Linked DNA regions of Homo sapiens: region 1 is linked to region 2. The links come from fine-mapping of genetic effects on plasma protein levels. A gene starts in region 2. The other region holds a variant in brackets. All regions are shown on one strand. Distances are between the middles of the regions. Region 1 overlaps ADAM23 (ADAM metallopeptidase domain 23). Region 2 holds the start of ADAM23 (ADAM metallopeptidase domain 23).

Region 1 (8,471 bases), 32 kb before region 2:
AACCATGACTTATACTTTCAGTCAAGCACACTGCCAAATCAGATAGTCACTCAATAATAATCCATAAAATGTAAAAAGGAAATTAACAAATATTAAATTTTAAATACAGAACAATGAGAAACAAGGCTCCTAAATCCTTAATGCCATAGGACACCAAGTCAAATTCCAAACAACCTTCTAGAACAGGGTCACCATACTTGTGGGCTTCCTGTATCCATACAACTATGAGTGAGAGAGAGAGAGAAAGAGAGAGAGAGAGAGAAACTTCTGTCAAGTGTGGTCTCTGTTATCCACAACAGAACCTCTATTCAATACAAATATCCACTAGTCTTCAAATTCATTCTGTACCTTGAAGCATTAATTTTTGCATAAAGATATTTATATTGATGAATAATTTGTACAAGGAGAGATTTTTCAGCTCTAGATCAAAAAAGCTTTAAGTATGTAAAATTTACTTCCTAAGAATAAGATAAATCCTTAAGTATAGTTTCTCTTAAGAATATTATACAGTAGAGATGAGTTCATTAGTGGCACCCTGGTCTAAAAGAGCTGATAAATATACCTCCTTGAACATCTTTATAAACACTAAGAAGAACTTGACAGAGACTCAGTAAAAGGCTTATTTTATAGCAAATAAGTGATGTGACAAGTACAAACACTGACAACACTCTTGCAAAATAAGGTAATCTGGTGGTAAATGTAGTACCTTCATTTTACAGAATTGTAGGAGTTACACAATTTGATAATTGCTAGAATAGGTTTATACCAAGTCAATGTGACTAGCTTCAGTTTAATAGAATTTAATCAAAGAGCTAGTAAATCATACTGGGTTTTCCTTTTGCTTTTGCATTCAATCATTCCACACAAACATATTAAGTCCTGCTTTGCATATAAAGATAGCTGGGACACAGCTTCCGCCCTCTAAGAAGTGATGGTCTCCAGAGGGGCAGGTACAACTGTCAGCCTCAGCTTGTCTAATGGGCCACAGGGACCATGGCTGAACCCCATCCAGGCACAGAGAGGTGCAGAAAGGATCCACTGACAAGGTGCTATTTGAACAACAACTCAAAAGATGAATAAGAATCCACGTGTCAGAGAAAGAAAAGACACTCAAGGCATGGAGGAAAACATTTATAAAAATCGAGTCAAAATGAATGTGAGAAAAATAAGCTTTTTAAATTTTTTAAAAAATGAATATGGCCTGTAGGAAAATGGTTTTCAGATGAAATGTCAAACAATGAATCTGAAAAGGTGGGATGGAGACTGGCAGGCTTCACGTGACATGATCAGTGACATTTATGATCGCAAACAAGAACATGTGGCCAAGACAATGAGCCTTCTCCTAAATGGCCACTCCCTCAAACTCACTCAGCACCATTTCTGGCACACGCCATCATCATCATCATCATCATCATCATCATCATCATATCATTATGATTCAAACATCTTAACAGATTACTCTCCAGAACTGAAGCAATTTATCATGCCAGCAACAAGATATCTGTTTATCCATAGGAAAAAAAAAACCTGATTTTATTACCTTTATCAGTAAGAATGTTTTAATATTTTAATTCTAAGAGGAAGCACATTTTCTATAAAATGATTTAAGATTTCCTCACCATATTCATCTTCTTTGTCAATGTATCAAATGGAATTAGTTTCATCTAATACATTTATATCCATTTTAAGTCATTTAAATATATTGATGTATGTTATTTTGCTTACATTCTGTTTCTCTTTCCATTGCTATACATTCTGCAAGTGCTTAGACAGTACAGATTCTTCTCTATACCAAAATAAATACCTGACAAGTGCTACTTTTCCCTATCATTTTATTTCTGCCCTGTCTTAGACACAATTAAAATAGTGTTTAACTTCTGGATGCTATGCAGTCCATTTCAATTTGTCACTTTTTCTTTAACAAAATATTACACAGTTTTTATATATGCCCATTTTAAATGTTTTCAAATCATGTAAAGTGAGTCATTATTTTATAAACCACATTGTTGTTTTATATATATATATATATATATATATTTTTTTTTTTTTTTTTTAACAGAATATTGGCTTGCTTCTTCCAAATGGTAGAAAAGTTAGAAGAATGGCTGGGATGAGTACAAAGTCTTACAATATACAGCCATATCATTTTTAGTTGATTTAACAGATTTTAGAGATAATGAACTGACCAGCATCACTGAAATCCATTAAAAATACAAAGACTACCTACAGTATTGTTCTTCTTTTACAAAGGAACTATACAGTGAGGTTTAGAAATGTGTTCAGTAATACAAAATCAGATCCTAGGAATGCTTCAGAGAAGAGTTCATGAACCACATATTAGGTCATAATCAGTTATTTTCTCTTTCGGGATATCTGTTAAACAGCCTTGCTTTTATAAGGACATTCACTATAATAGCACTGGGGAAGAATGCAGGGTTTTATAGCCAAAGAACATCATTTCACAACAAGAATGAGCATGTCCCTGGGCTCAGAATTACCACCCTGAAGGACTGAGAACAGCTGCTGCCTAACCACTTTAGTATTTTTCTTTTAACTCAGAATCTGGCACAGGGAAATTACAGGAGCTCTGAAAAGAAAAACAATTAAACTCAATTATATACACAAACCTCCTTCACTGGAGAACAGTTTACACGTCTTAGCAATGTGCTTTTGTTTTTATTTTTTCTTTCTAGTGGATGGCATCTAATGGTATATTAAATAACTTTAAGAAAGCTATTGGGTTCTTCGGCTAAGACTTGTTTCTCACCTTATCATCAAGCAATGTTATGACATTAAGCAATCATACATGCTCAACTCTGTGTAGGGTACATTAAATAGGCTCAATAGATACTATTGTGTTTTCTTGGGACTTATATTCTAGAATAGCTAATATAGACATAAAAACAAGAAGAAAAATAACTCTATATCTAATCATAAAAATAAAAGGCAGCCATTTGCAGGATATACATGTTTTCATGCAACTATGTTTCACACATAATAGGTGTTCAAACAGTATTCTTCACTACTTGGCAAGAATTTGTGAGTTCTGTAGAGCGTACCCATAACTGGAACTGAAAATGGGAAATAACATTTTCCCAGAATTCAAAAAATATCATAAGGCTGAATTTCTACTAAATTGTAAAATTTAGTAGAAATTGAGCAACTTGGGTAACTGAGTGCCTACACTATGGATCATCACATCTTCTGAGACATATATTTCACCTTAGTATGCTCTAAACCAGTGGTCCCCAACCTTTTTGGCACCAGGGTCCAGTTTCACGGAAGATAATTTTTCCACGGATGGGGTGGAGTGGGGGATGGTTTCAGGATGAAACTGTTCCACTTCAGATCATCAGGCATTAGATTCTCATAAGGAGTATGCAACCTAGATCCATCGCACGTGCAGTTCACAATAGGGGTCATGCTCCTATGAGACTCTAATGCCACTGCTGATCTGACAGGAGGTGGAACTCAGGCAGTAATGCTCACTCACCCACCACTCACCTCCTACTGTGTGGCCCAGTTCCTAACCGGCCACAGCCTGATATCAATGTGACCTGGAAGTTGGGGACCCCTGCTCTAAACTATAGGTGGTGTGAGAAACATAACAGAATTTGGAAGTGGTTTCCTGATCTTAAGATATATTCAGTTTATTTAGGGAGATATTCATTTAAGTAATGAACGAAACATGCCCAAAGTGGAATATCAATAGACAAGAAAATGTTTTACAAACAGAGGTAAGAAGCCCTTTAGGGTATCAAGCAGGCCTAAGCAAACACCAGTGGAATGATTCACATTCAACTTCGTAAAGAAGAGGGCTACAGGTCTCGGCTTCAGGAAAGAGGGCATTAGAGACCGCAAAAGTCAGTAAGCAGATGCCTGTCTTCTCTGTTTATTCTAACATAGAAAAAACAATGTTTATTCTATGTCTGTTAAAACACTGAATACAGCAGCTACACTGTATACATGTGACAGGTGTGTGAGTGTGTGTGTGTAACCATAACCTTTTCAGGAAGTATTTTATTTCCTTTATCTTGTTGCATACGGTTCTTTTCCTTACCTTTACAGTTTTTCAATAGACCCTTCAAGAGTTTCCACTCCATTATCTTCAAATATGGTGGAGAAAGGTCATAGAATATAAAACATCACCTTTTTTTGAGATTCAGGACATTTTATAATGTTTCAGAGAAGGCAGATTTGAAAATTCACCAACTAACAAGATGGGAGGAGGAAAATTCGCTAATTTGATGCTAGAGGGACCCTGCCTTTGTCATCATGGGTTGAGCTGCTGAGAACAAGAGTCCACTTCACCAGGAAGACTTTCATCAGCGTGGCTGTTTGGTATGTTTTTCTTTTCATACGAAAACAGTAGGCACAGAATCCAGCATCCCAGATAATTAAATATCAATGAGAATAAAATGTCAACTTTAAATTGAAATAAGTTTGAGGAAAAGAAGTCACTTCTTTTCAATCACAGAGGTTTTTCTAAAGAGGACTAGTTTGGACCTATCCTGTAGCT[A/G]GAGAAACATGAAAGTCCAGCTTGTGAATCTTTTTCTGTATAATGCAAAAATCCAAATATGTAAATATATCTTAAAAGTTTTGAAGTCCAAAAGAAAATATCAACAGACCATTTTTAATTGTAATTTTGTTCTAATCCCTCATTCTAAATTGATACACTGGTGATTGCACAGGTTTGTGTTATGATAAAAATAATAATGCCTCACATTTCTTACATTTTAATCATCTCAAAGTACTGTCATGTCTATCTAGAACACAGCACCCCATGCAATTGGTACAGCAGACATTTTTATTACCCTTTTATAGAAAAGAAACTTTTTTAAAGGGCAGAGAGAGATTAACTAATGTTATTGTCCAAGGTCATAGATCAAAGGAAGAAACATGAGGTGTTAGTTTTAGTTAAATGACAAAAAAGTGCCATACTTATGCCAGAAGTCCTTACATCTGCAAGCCTCAATGTTTTCCGGTCAATAAAATACAAATAATAATAGCTTAACAACATGATGTGTGCGAGGATTAAATAATACAATAATGCAACTGACGGCCAGGCGCAGTGGCTCATGCCTGTAATCCCAACACTTTGAGAGGCTAAGGCAGGAGGATCGCTTGAAGCCAGGAGTTCAAGACCAGGCTGGGCAACATGGTGAAACCCTGCCTCTATGAAAAATACAAAAATTAGCCAGGCATGGTGGTGCATGCCTCTAGTCCCAGCTACTCAGGAGGCTGGGGCAGGAGAATCACCTGAGCCCAGGTGTTTGAGGCTGCAGTTAGCCAAGATCATGCCACTGCACTCAGTCTGGGTGACAGAATGAGACCCATTCTCAAAGAAAATAGCAATAATAATAATGTGACCAATGTAGCTCAGCCACAGTGAAAAAGCTCAGTCATTTAGGAAGGAGACAGTAAAGTAGGAAAAAGAGAAAAAAGAATACAGTAACATTTTGGAAGGGTATCAATCAACCCCACCCTAAAGTTCCCTCCCAGGATAGTTAGCCACCATCTAGCAAATTCCAATGTGCATTTACACTCAGCAAAATTTGCAAATTTTGTATTTTTATTGCTAATTACCATTATGTATTATGCTTTGACCTTGTTCAAGTTGTCATGTCTTCAAAATAATATGAATCATTTTCCACAGAAGTGAAACAGCTGCAAATGCTACATGAAGGCGGTTCTGCAAATTAGGGTAATTTGCTGAACATTCTTGCCATGATGCATTTAAACAGGTAGTTTGAAGGAGAAAAATATTATCATGTTTTCTTCTACCATGTTCCAATTGATAGTATTATGGGCTAACCAGCAACAATTTGTATTAAATACCTACCTTATGTAAGATACTAGAGCAGATTAGTATAGGAGAGTTAGTTTTGTTTTTCTGGTTTTTTTTTTTTGTTTTTTTTTTTTTGAGACAGGGTCTCACTCTGTTGCCCAAGTTGGTGTGGAGTGGTGCAATCACAACTCACTGCAGCCTTGACCTCCTAGCTGAAGCAATCCTCCCACCTCAGCCTCCCAAATAGCTGGGACCACAGGTACATGCCACTGCTCTCAGCTAATATTTTTATTTATTTTTTCATAGAGATGGGGTCGCACCATGCTGTCCAGGCTGGTCACAAACTCCTAGGCTCAACAATTCACCCGCCTTGATCTCCCAAAAAGTGCTGGGATTATAGGTGTGAGCTACCATGCCTGGCCGAGAATTAACACTTAGATCAAAAAGATTATAATATGGTTAAGGAAATCAAATGAGTAACTGAAAAGAGTGAAAAATATAATATGTCAATTAAATAAGAATCGTTATTGTTGTTGTTGTTGTTGTTATTATTATTATTATTATTATTATTATTTTAGAGATGGGTCTCACTGTGTTGCCCCAGCTGGTCTTGAACTCCTGGCCTCCTCAAGCAATCCTCCCATCTTAGCCACCCAAAATGCTGAGATTACAGGTGTGAGCCACTACCCCTGGCATAAATATTATTTGTAAAGATACCACACACAATATAAGCATGATTAATTACCAAATTTGGAGTAAGGGCAACAAGCGCATTTGAATTTGTGGAGTGAGTCTGCTGGGGGCTGGAGAGAGCTGAGAATGGCTTATGAGGAAGACTTTCTCCGCATTTAAAGAAAGAATTCAGACAGCTCTTCTAGGATTTATTTAATAGAATGAAATTATAAAGTGTTAATAAGTATTTGCTAACAAATAAATGCTTAAGAAACATGCTTTTAAAGTAAAACACAAGATGCCTTCCATTCTGGAGTGTTATACTGCAATGTGGATTGTGGTGTGAGTTAAACATGACAGTTTATCATAAAATAAAGCATTTTACAAGAATGACAAGTAGGGGGGAAACATACATGCCCGAAAAATGCCCGAAAACATACATGCCCGAAAATGTTAATCAATCTATCTTTTGGCCTTAAATTAGGAAGCTTAAGTCATACCGTTTGAAGGCTATTACAGAAACAAGACCAAAGCATCAACAAAGCACACTCTTCTCACAACCCACGATGAACATCTCCTACTTAAAGGAAGCAGATCACCGTGTGACTTTGTTCTCTGTGCCAACCTAGCCGAAAAAGATGGAACTTCTACTCTAAAAGAAATCTAGCCAATATTCGATTATGCGATCTGATGGTACAGAAAAAAGGAAAGCTTGGATTTATGGATTTGTCAATTTTAACTTCTGACCAAATCTTATACAAGAGCTCTTTTCTAAATAAATCAATTTTAAAGAGATTCCAAATTCATCTTCCTCTCTTTTCTTATGTACCTCAGTTTGAGGTACTCTTTTTTTTTTTTTCCCCTGAGATGGAGTCTCGCTTTGTCATCCAGGCTGGAGCACAGTGACATGATCTCAGCACCACAACCTCCGCCTCCTGGGTTCAAGCAATTCTCGTGCCTCAGCCTCCCAAGTAGCTGGGACTACAGGTGTGCGCCAATACACCCAGCTAATTTTTGTTTTTTTTTTAGTAAAGACAGGGTTTCACCATATTGGCCAGGCTAGTCTTGAACTCCTGACCTCAAGTGATCCACCCACCTCGGCCTCCCAAGGTACTGGGATTACAGGCATGAGCCACTTCGCCCAGCCGAAGTACTCTTAAATATGCAAAAGATGGACGCTGAAGAGAAAGAGGAAGTAGGCACTGATAATCCAAATACATATTCCAGTCAATCACATTAGCCACACTAAATATTTCTTTTTAAAATTCTTCATGGCCAGCCAAAGAAGAGAAGCTACATTTAATCTTATGGTGGGTATGGGGGAGGTCAAACTAAGATTTTCCCTAGTGATTATTTAGCAACCCTGGAGGACTCTGTAACAATACACTTTCACTGACAAAGCATCCTTGGACATGTATATGAAACGTCTTCTATACATTTACTGTTAGTGATTAATGTTTGCTGGATATTAAACTGGCAATGCCAACTAAGGAGAAAGACTGAATTACAAGCCTTTGGAGCACTTGCTATTTAAAATGGGTAAAGCAGCACAAGTATCACTACAGCAGTATTATTTCACTTTCATATATTTTTTGAAAGATGAGTAAAAATACAACTATGACAACAGTTACCATGGAAGCTTCTTGGTAACTGCCTTCCTGAATAGTAACATTTAATGTGGTGCATTAATCTAGTAGCTGAGGTGTGATTCACCTTGTTCTTTTTCCTCGTCAATTCCTACATCACCAAACTGCACAACTCCAAGGAACACTTCTCTCTCTGCTAACACTTGTGTCATAAAGCAAGAACATATTTTGTCTTTCTAGCCAGAATTATTGAACACCCACTAAATAATTTAAATAAAAGAATGGAAATAAAATATAAGTTTTGGAAAGCAAGACACCAAGCACCATGCTTAGTGTCTGTGACTCATTACATGGCAGTTTTTTAAATTTGCTTATATAATGTGAATACTATTCTAAAAGAAAAAAAAAGCCTCATGTGAGGCAAC
Region 2 (8,471 bases):
CACTTTTAGAATCTTGCTTATCTCATTTTCCTGCCTCCTGGAGGATAGATCATGTCTTTTCATCCTTTTAACCTTTATCTCTTATCTTTGAATACTTAGCATACCGCTTGCATATGAGAAAGGTGCAACAAATGTTTATAGAGTTAAACTAATAAGAAAAATGCTTTCAAATACGATTTCTGTAGAAACATTCTTTTCAAAGTACAGTATAAAAGAAACCCAACTATTCCTCTAGGTAAGCGGTGGGTACAGGTTTAACAAACCTTATTATCACGGAAGTCAGGTATATTACAGTCAAACCACGTCCCACCAAAGAAAACAGCCACATAAGGTTAAACTATAAGGCAAGCATTAGTCATAGCCTCAAACATCTGAGTTATTAAAAAGTGCCACTGAAATTTCAAGTCTCTGCTGAGGAGGGCTTGAGCATTCTTTGAAACAGGCTTTGAGGCAGCTGTTTTTCCTTCCTCCAGCATCCTAAGCAAAGGTGCTGGAGTTTGAGAACTAACCACTTAACTCTAAAAGGTCTCATTCATAAGGAAAGCTATAAAAGCCTCAATGCATTTTATCAAAAGGGCCTTGGATTTCTCTTCTTTAAAGACAACACCCATTTCTCCTATCAATAAGACAAATGAGTTAGACATGACCTATTAGTCACCCCATTAAGTTATATAGGAGCTTATGGAGAAAAGGGCTGGCTGAGAACAGAGACACATTTATCTCACGGTGGGTAGCAGCCACTTCAAAATAATGTGAAAGAAAGTTCACCTCTCCAGTAATATTCAAGGTGAAGAAAGCACTTTCTCAGAGACCTAACTTGTAAAAAATAGTAAAAATTAAACATTCAGGTCACCTGAATTTTATATTAGCTGCTTTACAACATAGGAAAATCACCCAAAAGCCTTAAATTTCTAGCTCCCCATTTGTAAAATGGGGATAAATACTGTTACCACTCACCTATATTTTAGAAAACTAATAAAAAACAATGATGTAAACTGCAGATACTTTCTTAAATTCTAGATGTTTAGACAGTTAATTGCTAACTGTTGTTCTCACCTGAACAAGTACAGATCAAAATGAAACATTTAACATACAGACTCTATTTTCTGCTCCCGATAAACAACAGAAGAACCGATAATCCATTGTTTAAATCTGCTCGGGGTTCAAAATAATATTAATTCAAGTAAAGAATAGTAACACAGGGAAAAAGATCCCTTAAACTCTTTGGATATTAAACATTTGTCTTCTACTGATACCTTGGTAAATATCAGTTCCACTTTCTGAACTAACCTGAAAGTAAAGCAACTGCTCATAATCAATGCAGAGTAGGTACTGAAGAATTATGCCAATCAAAATTGGTCTTCATATTATGCAAATAATTTGTGTCTAGTCACCATAATCTTTTTAAATGTCAAATTGTTTACCTATTGAAAATACAACAGAAAATTTTTTTTTCCTCCTACTGATCAATTAAAGAAACAGACTGTTTAAACACTCAATTTCTAAGTGGAAAGACTGATGGAGACACTGCAGCCAAATAGCTTCTTGAAGCAATCTTGCATGTGCAGATTGAAAGCAGTTTTTATATCATGGGAGACAGTTTTATATCAAGGCAGAATACTGCACCCTTACATAAAGCCTCACAGAAACAAGTTAGAATCATAAACACATTCACTTAACTACTGTTCAGTGCCCAATGTACCTGAAAGATACATGGATATCATTTCAGGTATCAGAAAATTCTAGTTCCAGTTTAGTCAGAGAAGAGAAACAACAGTCTTATCCCAGTAGATCCCAAGTTAATTCCTTCCAGTTTCTCCCCTATCATAATATTAATTGCTTTCTTAATAAAATGCTGCAGTAAAATTTGTGAACTCAGATTCTGGCAGAAAATCAAATCAAAGGAAAACTCTTCATGATAGTTACTTTTGCATAGCCAGCCTCCTGCCTACCTTATTATGTTTTTGCTGGTGTCTTGCCTTTGTGTCAAGAACGTGATAAGGGCTTTCCGAGTCTTGGTTGATGTAATATATGAGTCTTGAAGGCAGTGTGATTTCTTTCTGCATTGCATTGCTGTAACTGATATTACTGCTGCTATTCTGTTGCAATGTATTGTCTTCATCTGCCAGGACTCCCAAATTTTTTTCTGCAGTTTCATTCCAATGCGGAGCTGGTGGAGGTAGGGGGGTGGGGGAGCAGAAAATACAAACATACACAAACACACACATATTTACCCCATAAATACATAAGCACTAAAATGCATTTTTCCTTTAATTTCAAACACAAAGTTTTCTATTTATAAGCAGTTAAGAAGTAGAGCTAGAGTAAAGCAAGTTATTTCAACAATAAAATGGCCTGGAGAAGTTAATAAATAGCCAATAAGGCTTATACAACTGTGCACTATTTATTTTGATTTATGTCTTATATATACATTTCTAGTCAGACTCAAATCTATACTTCTAAGTGTTGGGGGGGGGGTAGAATGAACTTGAGGGAAGAAGAGTCATTAAATGAACATGTTCAGGGGTCCTGCCCCCGATCTCCACCCCTTCTCTGAGTCCACAGAAGCACAACTCTACTCTGCCTAGTGGCATCCCATCCAAGAGCTAAGAACGCTCCTAAGATAACTTGAGTACTGAATTTATGGATACCGAATATTAATCGACTCTTTTAACAAAATGGACAATTCCCTTCTCTTTTAACTTTAAGATGAGCAAACATACTTTGCCATGTAGGGATACAGATGCTGGCAGCTTCCCAATTTCTTTTTATTTTCCTGACAAAGCCAGCTTTCTGCTTTCAGTGACTTCCAATCATCAATATATAGAAGATGGTATTATATTAATTGTTCATTATAATGACAAGCACTTTGAGAAATCAGAACCAAAGGTCGTGCATGAAGTATGTCTTCAGCACCTTAATTCTTTGGTCCCCGAAGTGTGCCTCCCCCACCTTAATTCCAACCGCACTGAATGCGCCGGATACGAAATTTGAGGAAACAGCCCATTACCACTATTATCACTACATCCTCCCCGCATTCACATTAAGGTTCCACCACGCAAGTAGCAACTTGCTCCCTCGCTGTATTTCCCATCCACTGGTTGCCCCTCCGCAAGTTGCACAGAGATCGCTGAGGGACCCAGGATCCACTAAACACCTCCCAGTGGAACCAACAAGAATTGGAATGGGTTTTTCGCGAATGCAACAGAAATGGACTTCCAAAAGTGAACTGGGATGAATGGGGGTTTGGGAACGAGAAGGGTGGAAAGACAGGCAGGGAGGGAAGGAAAGGCCGAGCCGGGGACAAGCCCGGAGCACACGGACCCGCGCGCCCTTCGCTTTCCTCTGCAGGGCCCCGCGGGAAAGCCAACGCAAAGGGCACGGGGCCATACCCACCGCTGGGCGCAGCAGCCCCCCAGGCGCGGGGCCGGGACGAGGCGGCGAGCGGAGGCAGCAGGAGAAGGACGAGAAGCAGGCGGCAGGGCGGCGTGCGGGCCGGGGCGCTGGCAGGCACCGAGCCGGCGGGGCCGCGTTGGGGGCCGCAGGAAGCGCCGGCAAGGCTGCAGCCCGCCAGGGGCGGCTGCCGCGAGCTGCTGCCGGGCGGCTTCATGGCTCATAGCTCCCGGGCGCCGCTCCGTGTGGCCGGCGAGAGCGCCGGGCTAGCTGCGGGGCGGCCGCGGGCGGAGCCGGTCACGCCGGCTCGGCGCGCATGGTGCCGCGGCGGGCAGGGGGCTCCGGGCTCGGGGCACGGGGCGCGGGGCTCGGGGCTGGGCGGCGCCCCCTTTCCCGGCTCGCCTAGCCTCGCAGCCACTCCCGGGGCGGGACGCAGAGGAGTCCAGGGGTCCTCGCCGCTCCGCCAACTTGGAGCCTCCCCAGCGGCTACTCCCTCCCCCGGCGGGCGCGGCCGCTTCAGCGACTGCGGGGGCTGCCGCCGGGCCTGAGGATGCTGAGGCGGCGCGCGGGAGCGAGCGGCGCGGGGACGCGCGGGAGCGAGCGGCGCGGGGACGCGCGGAGCGGGCGTGCGCCCCGCCCCCCGAGAGCGCGCCCGAGCGGGGCTTCGGGTGCTGATGCTGTTGCTGGATGCTGTGCTGCTGCTGTTGCCTGGCCCGGAACGCACTGCGCATGCTTTGTTGGGGGGCGGGGAAGGGGGTAAAGCAGCAGAGTGATGCAGCAGCCCAAGCAGCATCGGAGGTGACGGGTGGTACCTCAAAAGATGGGGGCGGTGGAGGGGGAGCCGGCAGTCACGGATAAGCCAGAAGAAAGAGAGTACGGGGGTTTCCAGGCCAGAGACAGGGATGATCGGGAGAAAACAACCAGCCGAAGTCCACCTGCCTTTTCCACCACCCCAGACTTCACATACCCTCTCCTATTCCAACCTCTTCCTGCTCTGGATAAACTAAGGCCACGCATCTCCTTCTTAATCCCTTATATATTTGCTTCCTGCATGTAAATATAAAGGATTGCAGCCGGGGAGGTAAAAATAGCGCGGCTCCTCATTCAGATTGCCAGCAGCGGGTGGGACTGCGGCTGAGAAGAGCGTTTGCGCCGCAGGCTGGCGCGGAGTGGCAGGAATCCCCCGCGCAGGGGCGCTCTGCCCCGGCCTGTGTCCTCCCTGCCGGTGCCTGGGGTCTTTGAGGAAAGCACAAGAAGCCGGACGGTGTTTGCTCAAAAGTTCAGAAAGTATGACTGGGCATATTCGGGAAGGACTTCGACATTCTGGCGGGGAAGCAATACAGAGATTAGAAACCAAGTGTGTGGCAGCTATCTTGGGAAATCCGTTGTTTGTCAACCACGGGGATGGGCACACATTTAGGAGGACACATTTCTATTTTTGAGATCCAGTCCTGACTTCTGCAGAGGAAAGGGGAAGTTTTCTCTCGTTGCTGTAAAAAATGTAAATCCCTGACTTCGGTGGGTTCGCAGCCACTAAATCTGATGGCTTCAGATAAGAGTCTGTGGCATATTTCTGCCCCCAAACTCTCATAATGCAAGCATTCATTTATTCACCCTCCCAATGACAATCTGAGTGATAACAATGTTGTCTTACTCCGACATCCACGGGGTGAGGGCTGGGGTGGAGAATTCCATGATTAAAAGAAAGAATGTGGGTATAAAAGTGCCATGGCCATGACAGAACTCAGTGTTAGCCATCATCTTCTCCACTCACACTTAACAAAGAGAAAAGAAGAAGACATATACGCGCGCGCACACACACATTACAAAACTGTTAGGTAAATACTGAGATAACTTCCTTTCTATGTTGAGCTAGGATATTATTATCACATATTTATTCCTGTAAATTTGTAATTGTTGCTACCTCCCCCATGTGAGGGCAACAACAGTTTTCCCTTCTGCACACCATTGTGTCCCTAGGACCTCACACAGTGTCTGAGGCACAGAGAAATCGCTTGGAAAATATGTACTAAATGAATAAAGAAATGGGTGATACACACAAGCAGAAGTCACACTTGGGGCAGGCTAGTGAACACTCTAGCCCCACCGGAGTGCCCACTGCAGGTCAATGTTCTTAGGGTTGTCTCCCTCAAGTCAAGTATTCTCTGGCTAGGTTTTCCAAATTTATATTTGACACAATATGCATCCTGAAAAAGGGCCTGAGAGAAAGCAAGCCAGAAAGGAGATGTACAAGCAATGAGAAGGGAGAGGGAAATGAAAGGTGCAAAGCACCCAGATGCAAGTTACTTGAAAGGCATCTCTTGCAATTCAGTGACAACCTCTTAAAGTCTGTTCTGATAAATAAACCTATCAGCCAACCTGGACTGACCAAACCCACCCACCAGTTACAACACATCATTTCATGCACTTGGGGTATGGAATGAGGATTCAATATAGTTTCTTTTTTTCTTTTTTTTTTTTTTTTTTTGAGATGGTGTCTTGCTGTGTCACCCAGGCTGGAATGCAGTAGTGCGATCTCAGCTCACTGCAACCTCTGCCTCCCAGGTTCAAGCGATTCTCCTGCCTCAGCCTCCCAAGTAGCTGGGATTAGCTGGGATTACAGGCACGTGCCACTACACCCGGCTAATTTTTGTAGTTTTAGTAGAGACGGGGTTTCACCATGTTGGCCAGGCTGTTCTCAAACTCCTGACCTCAGGTGATCCACCCACCTCAGCTTCCCAAAGTGCTGGGATTACAGGCGTGATCCACCGCACCTGGCCTCAATATAGTTTCTAATAAGGGGTTGGGGTATTTACAAAGAGGGATGTTGTCTTATGTACTATAGTCAAAAGACTGCATTTATTTACAGAACTTTAATGGTTACAGACATTGCTAGAGTCAAAATAAGATATCAATAAATGAAATAATGAGTCAGAGAAAGAGTACATTACTTAGAAAAAATTTACTGGAAGTTTAGTCTTTAAGCCATATATTTAAGGGAAGGTTAAAAACAGAATCAAATATTAACTGATTAAATAATTTAATTGGTCAACTTGGTAGAGTTAGTAATATTCTTATTAGGTAGTTCAGAATTTTTATTTTTATAGAGTTTACTTCTAAATATTCCCCTCTGTGCTTTCATAAGATTTAGTGACTTGCTTAATCACTTGCCACCTACTGCTTTGCTCTGTATTCGTGTATGTGCATATCATCATTCTTCCATCAAAAAATACTGAGAGCAAGGCTGTATCTTGGTCATCTCTGACTCCACAGCCTAGTATAGTACCTGGAATCAAATCAGCATTCATAGAGGGGCACTCACAGGTAGGAAACAGAGGGATTCAGCAAGATGGACTGGAATAAAGAAATATACCAGAAGCTTGAGTGCTATAATGGCCCTGGTTACCAATGTGTGTTGGATCCTAAGGCCATCAGAGGATCACTGGAGTGATCTAGTCACAGTGGCAGACATGGAGAAATGCTGCAGTCGTAGGTGAAGGCAGGTGGCCAGAAGGTCCATGGGAAGGAAATTACACCAGGCAATATGGACCCTAGGTAAGCACCATGAGGGGTGCATGTGAGCAATACCCAGGAAGGGTCGTCATACTGTTCACAAAAATGGTCCATTGGTCTGGTGAGGGAGGAGATCAGAAGGTCTCTATTTGCCAAAATCTGTTTCCAGTGGTAGAACTGGACCCACTTTGCAACCAGTGAGAAGACTGGGTCTGGACAGGAGCAAGCAAAGGACAGAAATAGAAATATTAGATGTAGCAGGCCTTGGCCTCAAGAGGGCTGAGATGCTAGGGGAGAAAGTAGAAGAAGGGGATGACAGAAGAGAGGTCCAGAGGGTAAAATAAGTAAAAAAGCAGGGGAAGGTAGCAAAGCAGACTTACAAGAGCAATTGGAATGGAATAAGCATTTGCCCAAAAAGTCAAGGTCAAAGAAGGTGTGCAGCAAATTAGTGGATGGTGCTGATACTAAGAGAGATCTAGGGAGTGAAAGCAAGAGCATGAACAAGCCTCAAACAGCAGCTCTGGCTCAAGAGCAGCTTATACCCAGGAGCTCGCTGGGACAGCCTGTGTTACAGAGCCAGCTAGAGAAGGTTTCTCAGCCTCCTTTTAGAATAGCTGTGAAGACTGATTTTACCAGCGGAAGTGGATACTTCAAAGGAGAAAAGACAATGCATTTCTTCATGAAAGTAAAAAGCGAGTGTGCTTCGTTATTGGTACTTGCCACGTGGTTCAGGAGTCAGCAAACATTTTCTGTACAAGGCCAGATAATAAACATTTTGGGTTTTGTGGGCCATATGGTCTCTGCTGCATTTTTTTTTCTTTACAAACCTCTAAGAATGTGAAAACCATGCAGCCTACAGGACCTGGTTTGTCAGCTAGCCATTTTTAAATCTCTCTCTCTCTCTCTCTCTCTCTCTCTCTCTCTCTATATATATATATATATATATATATATTTACCTTAAATATATATACCTTATAATATATACTATATATATACACCTTAAATATATATATATGTAAGGTTAAATTTTTTTCATCAACTGTATTATGTCCTGTGCATATAAGCAGAAAAAGCGAAGGAAGCGTGTGCCACAATATAGAGGGCTCTAATTCTAGAAAAGATTGCTCTCCATTGTAATTTAGATAGTTGTTTAATCAGTAAGTAGTCACTAAATTCTCAAAAGATGTTCATCATTTGAAGGGATCCCTTAGGAAAGAAGTATTTCTCCTTTTGAAGCCAATTCTCAGATGATGATAATGGGAGAAAAGTCAGAAATCATTCACCAAAAAAAAAAATACAGATGTCAAAAAGATTCTAGACATTTCTTTTGTTTTTCCAAGCTATACTTTCTTGTGAGTAGGGGATGCTGAATGGATGCTACAGCCATGAGTGGTCAGAGAATGGAGTAATACATGCACTCTAGTCCTTCCCAGAGCCTGTCACCATCTGGGATCTGCCTGTGTTCCTCAAACTCAATCCTGTAGAGCGGCCATGCGGCAGGGGATACACACTCCTGACACAGAGCCACACCCCATGTCACAGGCAACCTTCAAGTTCATGAAAAT

The links. PIP is the chance, under the fine-mapping model, that this variant and not a neighbour inherited with it causes the effect. The UK Biobank Pharma Proteomics Project read protein levels with antibody pairs (Olink). The fine-mapping took linkage between variants from a reference panel, not from the people measured, so its PIPs are less certain.
Region 1: its variant is fine-mapped to the plasma level of the ADAM23 protein (UK Biobank, PIP above 0.99).

The regions. Positions count from the first base shown.
Region 1 is chr2:206,471,464-206,479,934 of GRCh38, reverse strand. All of the region lies in intron 2 of ADAM23 (ADAM metallopeptidase domain 23), which reads right to left. Among named protein-coding and RNA genes, the nearest start is that of ADAM23, 32 kb to the right of the region's middle. The variant A/G (reference allele first, on the strand shown) is at 4,520.
Region 2 is chr2:206,439,006-206,447,476 of GRCh38, reverse strand. It overlaps ADAM23 (ADAM metallopeptidase domain 23), which reads right to left and starts at 3,945. Exons shown (of 26, transcript NM_003812.4): 1 at 3,397-3,945; 2 at 1,953-2,170. The coding sequence starts at 3,610. RefSeq lists a silencer at 3,371-3,500.